Linked DNA regions of Homo sapiens. The protein of the gene in region 4 interacts with the protein of the main gene of each other region in a pairwise test. Each region holds a gene or a part of one and is shown on either strand. Other genes may lie near its edges.

Region 1 (3,500 bases), on a different chromosome or scaffold from region 4:
TCCAGCCTACGCGGCAGAGTGAGACTCCATCTCAAAAAACAAAACAAAACAAAAACTGTCAAAGACTGCCCTGCATGGTTGTTATAAAAACTGGATCATGTCGGCCAGGCGCGGTGGTCACGCCTGTAATCCCAGCACTTTGGGAGGCCGAGGTGGGCAGATCACAAGGTCAGGAGATTGAGACCATCCTGGCTAACGTGGTGAAACCCCGTCTCTACTAAAAAAATACAAACAATTAGCCAGGCGTGGTGGCGGGCGCCTGTAGTCCCAGCTACTCGGGAGGCTGAGGCAGGAGAATGGCGCGAACCCGGGAGGCGGAGCTTGCAGTGAGCCAAGATCGTGCCACTGCACTCCAGCCTGGGCCACAGAGCAAGACTCCGTCTCAAAAAAAAAAAAAAAAAAAAACTGGATCATGTACAAAGCAGTCTCCAAGGCTAGGGGATGAAGGGCATTCTGTAAATGGTTGCATGTGTCTTCATGCATATCAATCTTCCTGTCACCATCCTTGTCCATTCAGACTTCACAATATTAAGACAACTGGTTGTCCATTCATTCGTTCATTCATTTGGTGGGATCGGGTCTCGCTCTGTCATTCAGGCTGAAGTGCAGTGGTGTGATCTTGGTTCACTGAAGCCTCAATCTCAAAAACTTCAAGCAATTATCCCACCTCAGCCTCCCAAAATGCTGCAAATACAGGGATGAGCCATTGTGCCCAGCCTTCTTTCTATTTTTTAAGGTAAAATGAAAATAGACCCTTGCCTCAGAATACATACATACATATATGTCTACATTCTAGGCAATTTAAATATATATACATGTATATGTGTATATGTGTGTGTGTGTGTGTGTGTGCGCGTGTATTTACATTTCAGAAGGATACAGGCTGCAACATAAAGTCAAAGTTTAAATAATGTAGTATGCCTTCATAAGTGTGGCAGACTTTGATCAACAAAACTTAACCAAAAAACCATATGGCCAAGCATTGGGGGTCATGCCTGTAATCCCAGCACTCTGGGAGGCTGAAGTGGGAGTTATCACTTGAGCCCACACAGAAGGCTGAGGCTGCAGTGAGCTGTAATTGTGCCACTGCATTCCAGATTGGGCAAAAGAGACCATGTCTTAAAAACAAAAAACAAAAACCAAAAAATAAAAAACAGACAAGGATTAAGAAGTCTGATATCAGCATTCAAATTTTCCATCCAATAAAAGACACAATAAGAGACAAAATGCAAGTGGCAGATAGGGAGAAAATAGGACTTAAAAGCACAAAGAATTATTGCCCAAGAGCTATAGAGGATTCTTACAGAGAGAAAATAAGATTTAAAAGCACAAAGAATTACTGCCCAAGAACTACAGAGGATTCTTACAGAACAGCACATAAAAAGAAAAAAAATGGGCAAAGTAATCAAAGAGCACTTCGTGAAGGGAAAATAGAAATGTCCTGAAAACATTGGCTGGGAGCAGTGGGTCACGCCTGTAATCCCAGCACTTTGGGAGGCTGAGGCAGGTGGACCACAAGGTCAGGAGATCGAGACCATCCTGGCTGACACGGTGAAACCCCGTCTCTATTAAAAATACAAAAAATTAGCCAGGCGTGGTGGCGGGCGCCTGTAGTCCCAGCTACTTGGGAGGCTGAGGCAGGAGAATGGCATGAACCCGGGAGGCAGAGCTTGCAGTGAGCCGCGATAGCGCCACTGCACTCCAGCCTGGGCAACAGGGCGAGACTCTGCCTCAAAAAAAAAAAAAAAAGAAAGAAAAAAAAGAAATGTCCTGAAAACATCAATATTTATTTTCTCATTCTATCATTCAGGCAATTCCAAACTGCGACTTTAAGAACACAAAATATACACATTTCACGTGAGTAAAAATAAAATGAAGTACAATAATATAAAGCTTTGGTAGGTCACAAGGGAAGAGGGCTTGGAAAGTGGTCAGCGTGCTTGGCAGGGTACCTTAGTGGCAGCTGTGAAAACATAAACTGGGGGCAGGCGCGGTGGCTCACGCCTATAATTCCAGCAGTTTGGGAGGCTGAGGTGGGTGGATCACCTGAGCTCAGGAGTTCGAGACCAGCCTGACTAACATGGTGAAACCCCACCTCCACTAAAAATACAAAAATTAAGCCAGGCACAGTGGCTCACGCCTGTAATCCCAGCACTTTGGGAGGCTGAGGCAGGTGGATCACCTAAGGTCAGGAGTTCAAGACCAGCCTGGGCAACTATGTCTCTACTAAAAATACAAAAATTAGCTGGACGCGGTGGCGCATGCATGTAATCCCAGCTACTCGGGAGGCTGAGGTAGGAGAATCGCTTGAGCCTAGGAGGCAGAGGTTGCAGTGAGACAAGATTATACCATTGCACTCCAGCCTGGGGGACAGAGCGAGACTCCGTCTGAAAAAAAAAAAAAAAAAAGAAAACATAAATTAGGTATATTCTACCACCCAGCAGTTCCACTGGTAGGTATCTCAGAGTCAGAAAGCTGGATAAACGAACATCAATCCATACCTACGTAGATAGATGGTCTTTTTCTTTTTTCTTTTTTTTTGAGACAGAGTCTTGCACTGTCACCCAGGCTGGAGTGCAGTGGTGCGATCTCAGCTCACAGCAAGCTCCGCCTCCCAGGTTCACGCCATTCTCCTGCCTCAGCCTCCCCAGTAGCTGGGACTACAGGTGTCTGCCACCACGCCCAGCTAATTTTTTGTACTTTTAGTAGAGACAGGGTTTCACTATGTTAGCCAGGATGGTCTCGAGCTCCTGACCTCGTGATCCGCCCGCCTCAGCCTCCCAGAGTGCTGGGATTACAGGCGTGAGCCACCGCGCCTGGCCAATAGATGGTCTTAAAGGCCAGCAGAGAGAAGAGAAACCACCAGTGAATGACGAAAATTATTACAATAGATCACTTAATAGAAAAACTGGAAACCCAAAGGTAACGGAAGGCTACTTTCAAAGCACTGAAGGAAAAAATCTATCAGTCACACTATTGTTCAAGAGCAAAGGTGAGATAAAGACTGTTTCAGAGGCTGGATGTGGTGGCTCATACCTGTACTCTCAACACTTTGGTAGGCCAAGGTGGATGGGTCACTTGAGCCCAAGAGTCTGAGACCAGTCTGGGCAACATGGTGAAACCCCGTCCCTACAAAAGATACAAAAATTAGCAGGGTGTGGTGGCATGCGCCTGTTAGTCCCAACTACTTGGGAAGCTGAAGTAGGAGAATTGCTTGAGCTCCAGGGGTTGAGGCTGCGGTGAGCTATGATTCACTCCAGCCTGGACAACAGTGAGACTGTCTCAAAAAAAAAAAAAATTCAGAAAAGCAAAAGCAGAGTTCATTTCCAAGGATACTAGCCAGAGGAATTAGAAAATGTTGTTCTTCAAAAAAACCCCAAGAACGAAGGAAGGAAAAACAAAGGAATTGATGAATATGATGAATGTGGGCTAGGTGTGGTGACTCACACCTGTAATCCCAGCACTTTGGGAGGTCGAGGTGGGGGGATCACTTGAGCCCA
Region 2 (2,961 bases), on a different chromosome or scaffold from region 4:
CACCATGTTGGCCAGGATGGTCTCGATCTCCTGACCTCATGATCCACCCACCTCTGCCTCCCAAAGTGCTGGGATTACAGGGTTGAGCCACTGCGCCTAGCCTTTTATTTATTTATTTATTTTTTTGAGACAGTGTCTCACTGTTTCCCAGGCTGGAGTGCAGTATCACAATCTCGGCTCACTGTGACCTCCACCTCCTGGATTCAAGCAATTCAGGCTGGTCATGAACTCCCAACCTCAGGTGATCCACCTGCCTTGGCCTCCCAAAGTGCTGGTATTACAGGCATAAGCCACCACACCTGGAGTTTTAGTCAGAGCTTCAGTGACCTGGAGGAAGGGAAATATCCAACTCCAGCCAACTCTATACATCCTGACCCAACTAAAGGGTGGGAAAAACTGAAGTTCACAGTGCAGAAGCACAGACTCACTGCAAGACTGACATCTAATCCCTGGACAATAGAATGCTGCCCCTCTCCCCACAGCTTATCATGATTACTAGAGGCCTGCTTACAGCATTTCCTCTTATCCAGTATGCCATGTCCAGCTAAGGAAAAATTACAAGCATACTAAAAGGCAAAAGTTAGTTTAAAGAGAAAGAGTAAGAACCAGAACCAGATATAGCAGGATTGCTGAAATTATCAGACTGGGAATTTAAAACAATTATGATTGATATGCCATGGGTTCTACTGGATAAAGCAGACAGCATCCAAGAACAGACAGGCAGTGTAAACACAGAGATGGAAATTCTAAGAACCACAAAGAAATGCTAGAAATTGAAGACAGTGTAACAGAAATGAAGAATGTCTTTGGTAGGCTTATTATTGGCCAAGAAACAGCCAACTAAAGAGCTTGAGAATATATCAGCAGAAACATCCACACCTGAAAAGCAAAGAGAAGAATAAAAAAACAAGATATAAGAACTGTGGGATAACTACAAAAGATGTATCCTACATATAAAGGAAATACCAGATGGAAAGAAAAAAAAAGGGAAACAATGACAGAATTTCTCAAAATTAACTCAGACACCAAAACGCAAATCCAGGAGGCTAAGCAAACACCAAGAAGGACGAGCACCAAAAACCTATACCTAGGCATATCATTTAAAAATAACAGAATATCAAAGATAACAAAAAATTTTCATAGAAGCCAGAGGGGGGGAAATGCTTTAAGTATTGAGGATCAAGTATAAGAATTACATCCAACTTTGAGCATAGAAGGAAGAAGTGAAGGTAAAATAAAAATGTTTATTTTTCTAATACTTAATTGATCTGATAACTTCTGAAAAATAGCTACAATGTATTAGATTACATATGCTAATTTGTGTGTGTTTATAGGCATAAAAGTGAAATATAGTAATGATGGAAGGTCTGAGAGGGAGGATTTAGGATTATTTTGATAGTATAAGGTACTAACACTACTCAAGAAACGGTACAGTATTATCAGAATTCATGTACTTATTATGGCATGTGAAATATTTAAAGGTTATACCATATTCCTTACCTTCCCAGGGTTCTGAGGTAATTTTACATGTGTAAAAAAAATTCTGTGGAATTAATGTAAGGCTTCCTACATGCATTACAGGTAAAAGGCTTCTCTCCAGTTCGACTTCTTACACCTTCTAGAAGGTAGAAAACATTAATGTAAGCTTTTCCACAATCCTAATGGGATTTCAGTCCACTCCAAGTTCCAGTATGGTGTATGGGGTCACATTCCTTGCGTTCACAGTAAAAGAAACTTTCTTTCCTTTTTTCTCCTCTATTTTCACATGGTCTACGACCAGACAACTTGCATGTGAATATTAAAATATAGTGAACATTCACAGGCTTTTTCATGCTCCTTACATTCATACAATTTCTCTCCTATGTGATTTCTCCTGTATGTAGAAAGGACTGAAGACTCAATGAAGGCTCTCCCACGTCTTACATTCATATAGTTTCTCTCCAGTGTGGCTTTGCATGTGAATATTAAGGCTTTTGGACAATCTATAAACGTTTTTGCTTATTGCTTACTGTATTCACTTGCTAGAGCCACCACAACAAAATACCACAGACTGGGTGGCTCAAACAAGAGAATTTTATTTGTTCAAAGTTCTGGAAGCCCAAGATGAAGGTGCCAGCAGGGTTGGTGGCTTTGATAGAAGGATCTGTCCCAGTGCTCTGTCTTTGGCTTGCAGATGGCCATCATCTGATGACTTCACATCATCTTCTATTTGTTGTCTCAGTTGTGTCTTTCTCTTCTTATAGGGACACCAATCATATTGGATTAGGGATGTACTCTAACAGACTCAATTTAATCAAATAATTTTCTTTTTTTTTTTTTTTTGAGATGGAGTCTCACTCCATCGCCCAGGCTGGAGTGCAGTGGCATGATCTCTGCTCACTGCAACCTCTGCTTCCTGGGTTCAAGTGATTCACTTGCCTCAGCCTCCCAAGTAGCTGGGATTACAGGTGCCCACCACACCTGGCTAAATTTTTTGTATTTTCAGTAGAGACAAGGTTTCACCATGTTGGCCAGGGTGGTCTCAAACTCCTGACCTCAAGTGATCCACCCACCTCAGCCTCTCAAAATGCTGGGATTACAGGAATTAAGTAATTTTCATGCAGCTTCTTCTCTCCAGAGTGAGTTCATTCATGTCTTTAAAGTGAACTGGAACAAATGAGAGCTTTCCCACATTTATTACATGGACAGTTTCTCACTAGTGAATTTGTTCATGTCTTCGAAGTGAACGGGGATGACTGTAAGCTTTCCCGCATTGCTGACATTTATAGGGTTTCTCTTCTGTGTGAGTTTTTTCATGAATTCTAAAGGAACTGGAACACGTGAAGGCTTTCCCACACTCCTTGCATTCATAGGGTTTCTCTCCAGTGTGAGTCCTTTCATGTATTTGAAATGAACTGGAATGACTGAAGGCCTTTCCACATTGTTTACACTCATAGGGTTTTTCTCCAGTGTGGATTCGCA
Region 3 (3,500 bases), on a different chromosome or scaffold from region 4:
AGTCTGTATTCACAGTTCTTCTGCCTCATTTTTTAAAAACTTAGTTTATCTGCATCATGATCCAAATAAGGTTCACACTGATCAACATGGCTCTTAAATCCCTTCTCATCACTCCTTTATCTCTTTTCTCTTGCAGTTTATTTTTGAAGAAGCTGGGTCACTTGACTGTGGAGTCTGTCCAAGTCTGAAGTTTTATTTTTTTTGCATCCCCAAGGTGGTGTTTAACAGACTCATTTGGGTTTACAATTTGGGAGTTGAATCCGGAGGCTTTACTTCTAGTTGGCTTGCTTTTGCCAAGACTACTTTTTAGGAAGTGCTATGTTCTTCCTTTGGAAAGCACATAAGGTCTGGCTGTCTCTTTTTTTAGTGATGTTGCTGTTTGGTCAATAAGTTAAGGTGGAATCAGCCTGATTTGTTCTTCGCTTTTAAAACAAAACAAAACAAAAAACAATAACAACAACAAAAAACACCCTTTCTCCTTTGTCACTAATAAGGAATATGCAGAGTGAGACTTGAGATTCTGTGAATAGCCTCCCTGATAACATCTTGCTCAACAGTTTCAGCGTCCATTGACAATTCTTTTTTTTTATATTTTTTATTTTAATAAAGACAGGGTCTATGTTACCCAGGCTGGTCTCAAATTCCTTGCCTCAAGTGATCCTCTCACCTCAGCCTCCCAAAGTGCTGGGATTACAGGCATGAGCCAGGGCACCCTTGAATGAATTATTACATTAGGGACTGCAAAAGAGAAATTTTCAGATTTTCTCTCTCCTTCACAAAGTAGCTGGCATTCTTGTATAATATAGTCTTTCTCTCACTCTCCCCCTTTTCTTCTACCATGTATATCCATGGATTTCTAAAAATTATTATTAAATGTGTTATAATCCATACTCTCATAATGCTGACTGTCCCAAATTTGGCCATTGGGAGCTTCTTGGAAAGTCATCCTCTGTCTTTCTGACATGGCACTAAGGGTCTTTCAACACCTCCTTGCTTTCTGACACAAGCATGGCAAGCTAACCTTGTATGTTTCCTGTCCCAGACCTCAAATCAGCCATTTCTCCAAGGAGCCCTGAAACCTTTCACTGGGAAATGGCATTTAAAAACCAAGCTCGGAGAACACAATGCATCTCGGTTAATTAAGTATCACTGCTTGTAGGCTCTTTGGACAGAGCAAGGATATTTTAAATAGGTAAATCACAAGTTCATGGTGACACCCTGAATTCAAATCCAACACGGAGGCTTCTTCCTCTGCTCCCTCATCTCTCCCTCATCTCACATTAGCATCGCCGTTCCACCACAAGGAAAACCCTCGATTCCCAAAATTTTTAATATACTTATCCATGTGGTGCTCTATCTACAATAAACACAAAATAGCGCCAAACTGACGCCACCAATATACTACCAACAACAAACAGTGCAGTTCAAGATTTCTTTGCAGTTCTTTCTAGCCCTGGAACATAGTCTCACTATACACAGGATCTTTTCCTTCAGCTAACCAGATGATCATTGTACATGGTTATGCAAAAATGTTTCACATGTACTTCCCATTTCATCATGCAGTATATTAAAAAGATGTCCTTAACAGTTGAGACTTAATAATTTTTACTGTTTCATCAGAACATTCTTATGTGAAACTGACATTTTCTTTTTAAATTGAGTGCATGGAGGTGAATGCAATGACTACTAATACAGTTTGTTGCTACCACCTGGATTCATGCTAAAGATCAGCAGTTTTCTCCACTTTGGCTTTTGCACAATCAGTGCAAATATCAACACAGCAAAAAGGGCAAATAATCTTAGTATTATTATGACATTACATTCGCCCTCATGGACCCGTGAAAGGGTCTCAGGTCCTCCATCTCACACTTTGACCACTGCACTAGCATATACAGAGTTGTGTATTCAAAAGCTACTTAGCTTCGTGGAATTCTCTGTGTGGGTGTGTTGACTTAATTTTACATTTAGTCAGGTTCCATTTAGGAAACTGGTAATCCTTAATCTATTTACTTTCATCCTTATTTTAATGCTTCTTGATTAAAAATAATTAGAAAATAATGGTTCAATCAAAGGAAGTGTAACATAAATACAGAAATGGGATACCCCAAGTTCAGTGATGCTGAAGGGTTAATACAAACACTTTCCCACCATCTAATAAAATCACTGCAAGGGACAAACAAGAACAACACTTACAGAAGTAGAGTTCCACTAACAATTTTTTTACCAGCCACACGTAGTGCAGCACTAGCAAAGCCTAACTCTGACATCATTCTTGGGGAAAATATTGAAACTTTTCTCAAGGAGGTATGTTAAACAATGTTTGCCACCTTATCTTTTCAAAGACACCTTTTGTTGTTGTTTAGCACTCAGAACTAATACGCAAGGAAAACACCCAGACTAGAGAAACACAGACAATACTTATGAAAGTGTGCCTATGTTGTAGCTACATAATAGCCACTGAGTTCAGTCCCTGCAGAGGCACTAAGAGGGACAGTGTGTCAATTTCAGTCTTTTTCTTTTGGCCTTCTCACCATTCTACAAAATTCAAACAGCCCTGCTGGCCCAGAAGCTTCTTTTAACATAAATGGTTTAAAGGAGGAGGAGCACCCCATTTATGGATTTAATGGAAATACATACAAGGAATGGAGAGGGTTGGTGATAGGAATAAACTGCTTCCAGCAGCAACTGCATTAGTCCCTGTGCTATTGTGTTCAGCCCCACCACTGCTGCGAGCCTGTGTCTGACTAGCTAATTCCTCCTTCTGCATCTTTGACTTCTGCATCTGCTCCAGAGGTACCATTAGGGGGCTATAATTACTGATTAGGAACAAAAGGAAAGAGCACACTTTCAAAAAAACGGTGTGCATTCCTGGGGTACGCAGGGCTCTGATCCTTCAAAAGGTATTAAAAGAGTTTCAGATAGTCACAAGCTTCAAGATTTGCCAAAAAAAAAAAAAAAACTGTAAAATATTCAAGTGTCCTCAATGCAACGAACTGATTTGTCTAACAGATGCAACAAAGGCAGCAAGATTTATATGAGAAGGACCTGATAGAAAGGATACACAGGGACCTCTTCTAATGAATGACCAGTTCCACAACACAGTGATACATTAGGCCCAAGGATCTGTCACTTTCCTGTTCCATTCAGCAGCGATCCACTGGGTAGCTGCATAGTCTAGACAAAAATGCAAGACCTTTTTTTTTTTTTTTCAAAGTTTGTGTTCCATTCTATTACAATAAAGCCAATCATAAGACTCACCAAAAAGAAAACTACAACAAGTAACTGAAAACAACAAAAATACAAAATTTCTCAATCAATGGATATTTACATTAGTTGAACTTCTGAATTAGGATAACTACTATCTAGTGAACCAAAAAAAAAAGGGAAAATTCTCATCTGAAAGTGAAAAGACCGTTTCATTATTTATAATACTTGTTAAAAATCGACAACTTCATGCTATTCCTTTCATGTACAGTTTCTGTTTGTCTACTCTGTCTTTA
Region 4 (2,302 bases):
ACCAGGGACATGGGGCTTCAGAAACCACCATCACTGATCCCTGGGTACACCTCCAACATGCAGACCCCTCCTGGACTCAGCCCGCCATGCTTGGGTCAGGTGACCTCCCACATATATACACACACACGCACACGCATACACACACCCCTCTGGAGAGCTGGACACTGCCCACCAGTTCCCATTCCCGAAACTTCCATGCTGGCTGTCTGGACACAACCTCTGTCTGCCAGGATCCCAGGCACCCAGGTCCCAAGTCTGAGAAGCCATGCAGAGGAGCTGCCCCTCCTGCACTCCAGGCCCCATCAGTTGGTCATTTTCTGTGACTTCCTCGGCAACTCCAGGCCCCTCCTCTCCCATGGCCACAGCCACGACCATGGCCTCCCATCAATGAGACTGTAGCTGTTGCACCCACACTCCTTGAAGATAAAGGCCGCCACGGATCTACCCCTACCCACACGGCCTCCTCAGGCACAGGTGGCACCCTCGCCGCAGTCACACACTCTCCAATAGTTTGGTTAGATGGTTGGTGCCCTCACCGGCCAGGAGCCTCTCAGGGTGACCCCACCTTCCTGGCTCCTGGGCTCCGCAGCTGCTGCCATACCTCTGGCATAGCTGGAGTCACCCGTACCGTCGCTGTCTGAGTCGGACTCTGTGGCCTCTGTGCGCAGTGGGGGCAGGATGCCGTCCCCCTCCACCACGGCCTCCCTCAGCAGCAGCGAGTCAAACTTGACTGTGTAGTAGCCGTTGTCCACATCTGGGGGCAGAGACAAGCTGCAGGTCAGAATCCTTGACAGCAGGTGCCACTGAAGGGAACCACCCTGGACATGAGGAGCAAGGCAGGGCAGAGGCTGAGGGTAGGTGTGCTCATTTCGGGCCCAGAGCCAGAGTCCCGACACTCAACCCAAAGGAAGCAGGGAGCAGCCACACAGTGACAACACACGTGGGGCCTGGGAGGGTGTTCCCGGGAGGCCCCCACGGCCAGCCTCACCGGTGATGCGTGCTGCGTGCCAGAGGCCATCCTGGTGCTTGGCCAGACACGCAGAGCCGGCCTGCAGGGAGCTCAGGTCTGGGTCCTGGAAGGGGCGCAGCTCATCCAGAGAGACCACCTGCCCATGGGAGAACCTGCAGACAGAGCCGTAAGGGGCAGGGCTCAGACATGGGCCACCAGGGGCAAACCAACCCAGGAGCACTGACCCATCCGCCTGGGCACTGTCCTGAGGGAGACAGACACACACGCGTGCGTATACATACACACTCTCACACACTCACGCACACACATACACACGCACACATACACACACACATGCACACACTCACGCACACATACACACATGCACATATACACACGCACATACAGATACACATGCACACATACACTCACACATACACATATATACACACTTGTGCATATACATGCAGGCATATACACACACATGCATATACACACGTACACATACACGCATACGCACACGCGCATATACACATGTACACACACATGCACTCACACAGGCACACACAAGTACACATACACACGCATAAACATGCACTCACATGCATACACACACGCATATACATACGTACACAGGCATACACACACATATACAGACATACACATATACACATACACAAGTACACATGTATACACATGCATACACACATGCACACAGGCATATACACATGTACACACACATTAACACATGTACTCACACGTCATACACATACACAGAGACCCTGACACGCGTATAAACATGCACTCACACATGAACTCATGCAAATACAGATGCAGTCATACATGGATATACGCACACGCCATCTCACCCACACGCGCGCACACGTGCCCTCACCCACACACATACGCCCTCACCCACACACATGCGCACACAAGCACCCTTACCTACACACATGCGCACACATCTCTCACCCACACACACGCACACACAGGCCCTCACCCACACACATGCGCGCACACACACCCTGACACATGCACACACACACCTCACCCACACACGTGCACACACATGCCCCCTCACCCACACACATGCACACACACACGCCCTCACCCACACACATGCGACCTCTCATCCACACACACGTGCACGCACACATGCACCCGCACCCAAACATGCACACACAGATGCACCCGCACCCACACATGCACACACATATGCAGTCACCCACACGCGCACACACATGCACCCTCACGTGTAGACTGTCACGTGCACTCACTCATATATGCATATACACATACATGCACACACATGGCATGCATATACACACATGCATATACACACTCACACTTGCA
Region 5 (3,500 bases), on a different chromosome or scaffold from region 4:
CATGCGGAGGTGCGGTTTTTCAGTGCTGGCACTGGGGATTCCTCCCTCTCCATCCTTCCTCCTTTCCTTCCTTCCTTACGTGTTCATTGAAACCTACTCTGTGCCAGCTATGCATGCAGAAGGCAGGGTCAGGCTGACACGGGGCCCTTCCCAGAGAGGCTTCAGCCTCACACACACTGCGCCACGGGTCTGCCTTGGGTACAAAAAGGGTGAGAGGTCAGTCTCCCTGGGGAAGGAGCACCTGGAGCTTATTCAAAGGTGGAGCAGGAAACCATGTTCTAAGAAGGACGCCAAAGGCCAGCAAGGTTCAGCTGCAGTGCTGACTGAGGGGGTGTGGCCACCGCAGGGGACATGTGTCCTGTTTTGCACCTGGACAGCCCCTCTTCAATACTTTCCTGTGGTATGTGGCTTCACTAAGGAGAAGCTAGAAAACCCCCTCTCCCAGCTCCCTTTGCACCTGTGCTGCAGGAGTGTGACCAGACGCCTCCAAGCCAAAGCGTGGATTTGGAAATGACGGTGAAGGTAGTGATGGTGGCATGTGGCACTGAGGGACAGCAGTGGTGGGGGCTCTGGTCAGTGGTGTGAGTGGTGATGTCTTGCCCAGCAGGGGTGCCGTGGGGCCTATACTGGCACCAACCCCTGCTGGAGTCTGGACTTCATTCCTGCTGCCCATCTTCCATCCCGACTCTCTGGCCCTCCTGGAGATCCTATGGGCTATCTCATACTCTTCCATAAACTCCTTTCTTGCTTAAAACAGTTCCAGTGGATTCTCATGTTTGCAGGTAAGAACCATGGCTGCATTTTCTGAAGCTCTGTCCTGGCCAGGAGTTGGAAGGAAGATGACTGCCTCAGGTGATCAGGCTTGGCTGGCAGTGGCAGTGCTGCCCACCCGAGAAGGGGTGGACAGATGAGGGCCTCAGGAGGGAGGGAGGGTGGCCTAGCACTTGGCTGTTGGGCAGGGGCAGATCCCACCTGGCAGCATGCTGTACATTGGGAGGGGGCTGTGAGATGGCCTGCAAGCCCCATTCAGCCTAGGAGGCCAGGAGTCTATAGAGTCCAACCTCATTTTGGTGGGGAACCAGGCCTAAGGTCACACCCAGAGCGCTGGAATGGAGCTGGCCAGGGGAGACCAAGCACTAGCAGGAAGTCCAGGGTGGGCAGGGAGCAGCTCCGGGGAGGCGAGAGGGGGCTCAGAGGGCAGATGAGTAGGGTAGGATGAGGGGTCGATAGAGGACACATGGCACCACCTGGTAACCCCAAACTCCAGCAGCTAGCACCAGACCTGACACACAGGTTCTCAAAACATATGTATGATGGAATAAATCAATGCATGAAACCGAGCACAGCCACTTTTTTGCCTTTGCAGACTCAGAGAACAGAAATCCCAGCCCTTCATCTCTCAGGCCAGAAACCCAGGCATCATCTGGGGATTCCTCCTACCCATTCTCCAATTCCAATCTCCATTCCTGTGGCATCTCTTGACCTGCCTGTTTCTCCCCATCCCCACTGCCCCTGTCTTGGTCCAGGCCACCATCATCTCTCTCCTGGACATTGTGGCCTCCTCCCAAGTTCTCTTCCAGCCTCCCATCCTGGCCTCCTCTGTCCATCTTCCACTCTATCTCTAAAGTGACTTTTCTAAAGCACTAATCTGACCATGTGAATGCTTTCATCCCTCAGTTCAAAACACTCCCCTGGGCTGGGTGCAGTGGCTCACACCTCCCAGCTCTTTGGGAGGCCAAGGTGGGCAGATCACTTGAGGTCAAGAGTTTGAGACCAGCCTGGCCAACATGGTGAAACACTGTCTCTACTAAAAATACAAAAATTAGCTGGGCATGGTGGCACGTGCTTGTCGTCTCAGCTCTTCCAGGGGCTGAGGCAGGAGAATCCCTTGAACCTGGGAGGCAAAGGTTGCAGTAAGCTGAGATTGAGCCACTGCATTCTAGCCTGGGCAATAGAGTGAGACCCTGTCTCAAAAACAAACAAACAAACATTCCTGTCTCCTATCTCATTACAGGACAAAGTCTGAACTCCATGGCACATAAGGCCTTCATGAACTAACTATGGCCTATGGATCCAGCTGTGTCTCTCAATCCCCCCACCCTTATACCCTCACCTCTCCTCAAGTCAGGCTGCACCCCAGCTGGTTCCCCAGCCTGTCAAGCTCTCACATGTACACAGTTCCTGTCTGTCCTCTCTGCGTCCTCTCTATATACAGTGTGCTCCTACTCATTGTCCAGCACCCAACCCTACCATCACCTCTTCCTAGAAGTCTTCCCAGACTGCATCCTTCTCCCAGCCAGAGAGTGTCAGACATTTCTTGGACATAATTTTGCTAGCTTCATATTTACAAAATTGTTTAAGCTGTATTGTAAATAACTGTTTCTGAGCAAGTCCCCCACCCAACTGTGAGCTCCTAATGTCCAGCAAGTGACCTGGCTCAGTACATATTGATGAATAAACGAATGAACACATAGAAGGTGGGAACGGTGAATGATTAAAATCATTAGCTGTGGCCCAAGAGAATTTGAAAAAAAAAGATGACAAAGCCCTGAAACCGTTTTCTGATGTGAGAATAGCATGCTTCTCCATGGAAGGATTCCTTTGTATTCCATAGCCTTAAAAACGACCATTATTTAAAAAGAGACAATTACATGTAACACTTTGTGCATCTTGCCTCTCTTAAAGCACAACACCCATTATGCCTAGGAAAACACTTCATCCAGAATTTGGCTCAAACAGCTGACAATGAGACACAGGCTGAACCGACTGAGGCCACATAAAGACACAAGAGTGGAAATCCCCAGCTGGAGACTGGCTTGGCGGGTTTTGTGTTGACTGGCTTATTTGTCTGTCTTATTTTCCAGCCAGAGCCCATACTAATCTGTGGTTAGAGTTGGTGCCACTTTTAGTTGTACCCTGCCTTGTCCCACAGCCTTTAAAGTGTCTTGTGAAGGTCCTCTAATAAGGCAAGATTTTTCTTTATAGCGAGAAAAATGAAGCTAAGAGAAAATTAGACACAAAGTGTTTGCCATGAAGCCTTAGTCTGGTTAGTCAAAGCAGATTTGGCTCTGAACTTCCCAAGGCAAAGAAGGAAACAGGAGGAGCTCTATTAGTGGAAAAGCAATTCTAGTGCAGAAGTGACTGCACAGGGATATTGACACCAGACAACAGTTTCTTCCACGGTTCCCTAAAGACAGGAACACCATCGGCCGGGTGCGGTGGCTCACGCCTGTAATCCCAGCACTTTGAGGGGCCGAGGGGGGCGGATCACGAGGTCAGGAGATGGAGACCATCCTGGCTAACATGGTGAAACCCCATCTCTACTAAAAAATACAAAAAATTAGCTGGGCGTGGTGGGGGGCGCCTGTAGTCCCAGCTACTCGGGAGGCTGAGGCAGGAGAATGGTGGGAGGTGGAGCTTGCTGTAAGCCGAGATCACACCACTGCACTCCAGCCTGGGCGACAGAGCAAGACTCCGTCTCAAAAAAAAAGAAAAAAGTA
Region 6 (3,127 bases), on a different chromosome or scaffold from region 4:
GCCTCAGGACTTTGCTGCCATTACCATCCCACGGTCTAGGGGAGAAGCCCGGGTTGGGGCTGGTTTCCGGCCTATGCTGCCCTCCCAGGGGGCTCCACAGCGGCCTCTCAGCACCTTCTCCCCTGCCCCCAAGGCCACACTGATCCTAAACTCCATAGGCAGCCTCAGCAAGCTCCGGCCCCAGCCCCTCACCTTCTCCCCTAGTTGGGGTGGACCAAAGAGCCTGCCTGTTCCCGCCCCACCTGGGGAAATGGGGACCACGCCTTCTGCTCCACCACAACGCAATCGGAGGAAATCTGTTCACCGAGTGTTGGCGGAACTGGATGATGAGAGTGAGCCTCCTGAGAACCCGCCACCGGTCCTTATGGAGCCCAGGAAGAAACTCCGTGTAGACAAAGCCCCACTGACTCCCACTGGGTAAGTGGAGTCCTCACTTGGCCCTCTCAGTGTTTTACTGCTTTTCGATTCCTTGTATCCCTAGGCTGTGAGGAGGTCCCCCTGCCTGGGGGGATGGGCACGGGAGGTGGAATAGATGGAATGGCAAGACCTGGGTTAGCTCTGATAGGAAAAGAAAAATATGTGCAGGAGAACATGAGAGGTGGGGTGGGGCAGTGCTTATAAAACAACCGGAGTGAGCATGTCCTGCTTTTTACATTCATATGGCTTTAACCCCATTCTTCTAGTGCCTAAGGATGGGGAACTTTCAGGCTCATACTAGAGGTTTTTAGGCCCACCCTATGTGTTTTTAAGGACAGAGTCCAGGCTCACCTTAGTTCTCAGACCACTGTGCCTCTGTGGCCTCACCCTATGACCAGCCATAGGGTGGCAAGGTCTAGGCCTTCTCCTACAGGTTTCCGGTGACCCTTGTGTCTGTGTCACTTCCTTCAGAAATCGACGTGGCCGTCCTCGGAAGTACCCAGTGAGCGCTCCCATGGCTCCCCCTGCAGTTGGGGGCGGGGAGCCCTGTGCAGCTCCTTGTTGCTGCCTGCCCCAGGAAGAGACAGTGGCCTGGGTTCAGTGTGATGGCTGTGACGTCTGGTTCCATGTGGCCTGTGTTGGCTGCAGCATCCAGGCTGCCAGGGAGGCCGACTTCCGATGCCCAGGGTGCCGGGCTGGCATTCAGACCTAAGGTCCACTGCCAAGGCACCATCGGACACACCTGCCCATGAGTAGACACAGCAGCGAGCAAATAGGTCTGATAAATACCCCCCTTCCCTTCCCTCCCCAGGAGGGAATGACTACAGGGAAGAAGGATGGATTGATGTGGACTCATTCAGGGCCTGGAGCAGACCCTGGTGGCCAAGACAGAAGAGATGGTTTCCTGCCAAAGATATTGCCACCTCCAGGAAATTGCCAGTGAGCTGGAAGTTCCCACTATTACAAGCCATAAGGCCATGTTGCCATGGACACCAGAATATCTGTAGTCAGAGCACCTATCAGTTGCAAAAGCCATGCCTGCAACCGATGGAAAATGTAAGAGGGAGTTCTTAAGGTTCTTGGTGGCATCACCCAAGGCATTCTGGGAAAACCTAGGGCCTGGCCCCAAAACTTCCCTACTCTGTGGCTAGTCCTGCTGCCAACAAAATCGTAGCGACCTGGCTTTTCACAGCTTTGCTTTTATTTCCAAGTCAAGGACAAGCCGCTTCATTCACTCCTGGGCATTTACTCTTCTTGTGGGTCTGTGATATTCCTTGCTTTCCAGGGAGAATGTGCTTGGCAAGGTCTGGAGAACTAATTCAGAATCTTAGGGGAAGGGGAGAGATGGAAATACAAACCTGCTTACTGGAAAGGTGCAAATATATGGGTTGAGCTGGAGGTAGGAATACAGGTAATTAAGGTTTCTAGTTTAAGGGAAAACAGATCTATTGCCATTTAAATAAGGTAACTGGGATTTGGTTAAGTTCACAAAGATAGCAGAAGATTTATTTACAGGCTTCACCTGTACTGTCAGGGCAAGAGAAAGCCTGGTAAACCAGCTACAGCAGTTTACCAGTGTGATGGCTGTGACACAGCTCCACTCCACGGGTGGACACAGCAGAGGGCAACTGGGCTGGCCTGGTTCAGTGTGAATCAAACCGCTTAACCCACACATGGTACATGTGATTTTCTTTTGTGAGCCTTACACCAAGCCAAACTATTGTCAAAGCATCATTTCTATAGAAATAAAGCCTTATCTTGACCTGTTCTATTAAAACCTGCCACACCCGCCCTTTCCTACCTAGATTTAATGAGCCCAAGTTTTTAAAATGGAAGAAATGACTCTGGGGCAAAGACCCCTAATGAACTAGTGGCAGAGCCAGGAATAAAACTTGAGTAACTAATGAGTCACTTATGGGCAGAGTATGCAAAAACCTTAAGTGGAAACCAAATAGACCCTGGTATCAAGAAAGCACAAAGTATTAATAGAAGTTTCTGGTTGGGGTGATCTAGGTTCAACAGAAATAAGATGATTTCTAAGTATAAAGCCATTTAAGAATTCCAGAGTAGGGTGGGAAAGCAAAAAGCCAGCTCTGAACAGGTAACAGCTACATGGTGACTGAGTCTATGGGCAAAAGTTCTTGCATCACAGGCTTTTGGGAACTAGCCTATCACAGGGCCCTGTACAAATAAACTTGGCTGCAATCCCAGCTCTCCCTCTGATGTTGTGTGACCTTAAGGAGTGTAAATGGCACCTTAGTTTCAGGGTCACTTGGGTATGAGCATTGGATATTCCCATCCCTACCTCAGTAACTGAAGGACAAACCAAGATAAGTGTGTCTATCTACTGTGTCCCAGGCTTCTTTATTTAAGAAAAAAGTGATACATGATGTGGGATTAAAATCAAGAGCATCATTGAACTTCACCTTCCCTCCAACCAGTTGCCCCAAACTCCCCTGCCCCCACCCTTTGTGTTCCCAATTCCTTCCTTAGTGAATGAAGAACTTAATCCCAAAAACCCTGGCACAAACTCCAGGTTTTCTTTCCCTAGCTCCTCCCCTCCCCCTGTCCCCCATTCCTAGAAGGGCAGGCACCTCAGTTTGAATGCATGGGAGAGCCCAGAGTGGTGACGGAGACAGGGGGAAAGGCTTCCCCCTCAGGGAAAGGGACCGAGGAGTACAGTGCAGTGAAGTGAGGGCTCCCATAGCCT
Region 7 (3,500 bases), on a different chromosome or scaffold from region 4:
GAGATTGTGCCACTGTACTCCAGCCTAGGCAACAGAGCAAGATTGTCTGAAGAAAAAAAAAAAAAGAGAAAGTTAGAATTGGAAGAACTTTTTCTCCCTCCCTTCTTCCCTTTCTTCCTCTTTCCTTCTTTCTTTTTGGTGTTGGCTAATTCTAAACTTATTAGAACTTGGCGAATCTACCAGGGTTTTCTACTGTTTCCATGGTATGGATATAATATGTCTAGTTAACTAAGTGAAAAAGCACAAAGTGCATCTGAAGAAAGACAGGTTTAATTCTATTTTATTCAATATTATTTTCTGTGACCTTTCTTTATGTATTTGGAAATAACTGTTAAATTGATATACATGACATATCATTCATGAAAGTAAAAAACTGGCAGCTCCAGGACAAGGTAAGCCCAAACATGCATTTTGGTTTGGGTTAGCGCTATTTTTCATTTAAATGAATTTGATGCTTTTAAAAGGGCCTTGTTCTCTACCATTTGCATTCCTCATTATTTTACTTTCTCAGCTTTTACCCAGTAACCTTGCCTACCTAGCTCATGAAAGGATTTGAATTTGTGATACCTGATACTTCTACCCATGAGATTAAGGAACTTTGATAATTAGTCATGTGCTAGAAAAATATTATTAGATTTAAAAAGAAGTTTCAGTGACTAATATATTTTCAGTCTAGACAAAATAATATTTTGCAGCATACTATTTTTAACAGATTTTTGCATAGGAACTTTTATTCTACTTTCAAATTATTCAGTAGATATGTTAATAGATAGTAACATATAATGAAATAGATGTATTGATATGTTCCCATCCCTTTTTCAGATTCTTACTAAGGTGTAGGTTGGAGTCCCTTTTGAGGAGTAGAAGCACAGAAGAATGAAGTAGGGATAAACATTTTATAACCACATGGGTAAAGTAAATAGTAGAGATTGGGCTAAAGTCAGATTATGAGATATCTAGCATAATTACAACAGGAGATGTACGTGGTAAATAGAGCTGCACTGACTGTCCCAGCCGTCACTAAATTTCTTCTTAGTGACTCCAAAATTTACCTGTGCTTACAAATTTAATATAAGGCCTTCAAAAAAACAGCCCATCTCTTTTCCTTTCCCTTCCTTTATGGTGTTTGCTTACAAGTTGATACTGTTCTCAAGTAGCATACAAAATGTCAAAAAATTAGTTTATCTTACTCTGAAATGTTAATCAGTTTCTTTATTACAGCGTTATGGAACATAGACATAATGATATGCATTATGAATGTATGACTCCTTGTCAAGTTACTTCAGACTCAGATAAAGAGAAGACAATAGCATTTCTTCTAAAAGAATTGGATATTCTCAGAACAAGCAATAAAAAGGTATAATATGGAAAGTCTGATAATTGTATAGTATGGGTTTAGCTGTTGATCTTCTAAATTTCCTTTGTTGCCCATCATAATTCAGTTTTATTTTGCACTTTAATCATTTAACAGTAGCTTTATGTTTTTGCCATACCTTGCCATCAGGGTATGGTTGAGTTAAGGGGTTGAAAATGAAAGCATTTTTTTGATTTCATACCTTGCTGGTCCACATTAGCACTTCCTTTTTCATAAGCCCCTGGTTCCTTGTATACATATCTTTAAAAAAAAAGATTCAAGTTTTAGTAAAACTCTGCTTCAGTATTATAGAGAATGGGAGATAGAATGCACTGGTTTCATGTTACTATCTTAATTTTTTTTTCTTTATTAGTATCCATGCCCTATATTTGACCTCAATAATACATGTAATTAAACATTTCAGTAGCAAGGCTTGGCAATATTGTCATTTACCTTGTGTTAATCTTATACTGCTGCATTTTGTCCAGTCCAATTTGTCACGTTATGTTTTATCTTCTGTTCTGACTCTTATTCTAGTTATAGTCATGTGATCATTAAATAATTTTATTAAATAATGTGCATTTTCTGTGTCTTCTTTTTTTTTTAACCTCTACATACTGCTCTGATTTTAATATTCTAGTTGTGTAACCTAATCAAACTGAAGCATGATGTTAGGAATGTTGATCATGTTTGGAGGAAAACAACTAAAATGACAAAAACCTAGGGAGGAATTAAAAAAACATGTGGAGGGATTCTGTATGAGATGTTTTCTGTACTTTCATTTAGCAGTTATTTATTACATGCCACTTATGAGTCAGGTGTCAGTGTCAATTTAAATGGAATATGATGGGGTAGTATTCTCAAAGGGAGATTTGTATCAGATATTAAGATTATTGTCTTAATTTTGTTTCAGAATATTGGATTTACTAAGATAAACTGTAAAGCAGTGCTATCTGTTATTTTATTAGGCAAATCCCTTCCAAATATTTTGCATTAAGAAAAAAGGATGAATGAGACTGCTTTTGCAGTAGTCATTATTATTATTATTTTTTTTGAGATGGAGTTTCACTCTTGTTGCCCAGGCTGGAGTTCAATGGCGCGATCTCAGCCCACTGCAATCTCCGCCTCCTGGGTTCAAGCAATTCTCCTGCCTCAGCCTCTCGAGTAGCTGGGATTACAGGTGCCCGCCACCACACCTAGCTAATTTTTTGTATTTTTAGTAGAGACGGGGTTTCATCATGTTGGCCAGGCTGGTCTCAAACTCCTGACCTCAGGTGATCTGCCCACCTCGGCCTCCCAAAGGGCTGGGATTACAGGCGTGAGCAACCACATCTGAACTGCAGTAGTTATTTTTAAGAATAATGTTGGTCCTCTGAATTTAATTTGCCTGTTCATGCACATATACACATAAATTAAGTGTATATTGGGATGTTTTTACAATTTCTGTATAACTACAGGTAATTATTACTTTATAAATAACTTAAATTTTAAATTTTTTTCTGGAGTTATCTATCTAGGAAGTTAAATATAATATAAGAATTAAGAAAAAACCAAAAACTTTGAAATTAATTATATTTTTGCAAGACATTTGTCAAATAAGAATCCATGATTTTTTTCAATGTGCTTTAGCTTCAGCAGAAATTGGCTAAAGAAGATAAAGAACAGAGAAAACTAAAGTTTAAGCTGGAACTCCAAGAGAAAGAAACAGAAGCTAAAATTGCTGAAAAGACAGCAGGTATAGTAGAGGAGTATTAACACATGGCTTGAAGAATCACACACAAGGTTATTATATGATGTATCTTGGTGAATACTAGCATACTGGCTTATTTGCCAAAGGAGGGGAAGCTCTCCTTTTTTTTTTTTTTTTTTTGGCTGCTTAGAAAATAGGTGGCTTTAACATCCTGGTACTGGTATTAGTGAGAGCTTTACCTGTATTCATACTGATTTGGGCATTAAATGCATTGTTAACACCATGTCAATCCAATCACAAAAAGGTTGTTTGTTTTGTTGGAAGGGGCTGAACAAACAAGGGGAAATAATGATTACCAGTGCCTCTACCTTTCAACCAGCAGTTCAAATACCACTTATTGTTTTAGCTCGTTGAGAGGAAATACTTCTCCTTTGTATGAAGATAGTCACATATTCA

The links.
Region 1: the proteins of ZGPAT (region 4) and ZNF329 interact in binary tests that used the Homo sapiens proteins (3 or more experiments, as listed by UniProt).
Region 2: the proteins of ZGPAT (region 4) and ZNF426 interact in binary tests that used the Homo sapiens proteins (3 or more experiments, as listed by UniProt).
Region 3: the proteins of ZGPAT (region 4) and CDCA7L interact in binary tests that used the Homo sapiens proteins (3 or more experiments, as listed by UniProt).
Region 5: the proteins of ZGPAT (region 4) and TRIM14 interact in binary tests that used the Homo sapiens proteins (3 or more experiments, as listed by UniProt).
Region 6: the proteins of ZGPAT (region 4) and TCF19 interact in binary tests that used the Homo sapiens proteins (3 or more experiments, as listed by UniProt).
Region 7: the proteins of ZGPAT (region 4) and MIPOL1 interact in binary tests that used the Homo sapiens proteins (3 or more experiments, as listed by UniProt).

What each region holds. Positions count from the first base shown.
Region 1 is NC_000019.10:58,130,290-58,133,789, forward strand, and holds part of ZNF329 (zinc finger protein 329), read right to left. Parts: intron 2,388-3,500; coding exon of another isoform or gene 2,350-2,387; intron 1-2,349. UniProt on the Homo sapiens protein: May be involved in transcriptional regulation.
Region 2 is NC_000019.10:9,525,685-9,528,645, forward strand, and holds part of ZNF426 (zinc finger protein 426), read right to left. Parts: coding exon 2,696-2,961; 3' UTR 1-2,695. UniProt on the Homo sapiens protein: May be involved in transcriptional regulation.
Region 3 is NC_000007.14:21,918,400-21,921,899, forward strand, and holds part of CDCA7L (cell division cycle-associated 7-like protein), read right to left. Parts: intron 1-3,500. UniProt on the Homo sapiens protein: Plays a role in transcriptional regulation as a repressor that inhibits monoamine oxidase A (MAOA) activity and gene expression by binding to the promoter.
Region 4 is NC_000020.11:63,732,039-63,734,340, reverse strand, and holds part of ZGPAT (zinc finger CCCH-type with G patch domain-containing protein), read right to left. Parts: intron 1,123-2,302; coding exon 989-1,122; intron 755-988; coding exon 602-754; intron 1-601. UniProt on the Homo sapiens protein: Transcription repressor that specifically binds the 5'-GGAG[GA]A[GA]A-3' consensus sequence. Represses transcription by recruiting the chromatin multiprotein complex NuRD to target promoters.
Region 5 is NC_000009.12:98,095,223-98,098,722, forward strand, and holds part of TRIM14 (tripartite motif-containing protein 14), read right to left. Parts: intron 1-3,500.
Region 6 is NC_000006.12:31,161,589-31,164,715, forward strand, and holds the end of TCF19 (transcription factor 19), read left to right. Parts: coding exon 1-417; intron 418-888; coding exon 889-1,129; 3' UTR 1,130-1,228; coding exon of another isoform or gene 1,229-1,238; 3' UTR 1,239-2,627; downstream 2,628-3,127. Other genes in the region: POU5F1 (POU domain, class 5, transcription factor 1), read right to left, coding at 3,013-3,127. UniProt on the Homo sapiens protein: Potential transcription factor that may play a role in the regulation of genes involved in cell cycle G1/S transition. May bind to regulatory elements of genes, including the promoter of the transcription factor FOXO1.
Region 7 is NC_000014.9:37,267,437-37,270,936, forward strand, and holds part of MIPOL1 (mirror-image polydactyly gene 1 protein), read left to right. Parts: intron 1-1,221; coding exon 1,222-1,357; intron 1,358-2,983; coding exon 2,984-3,089; intron 3,090-3,500.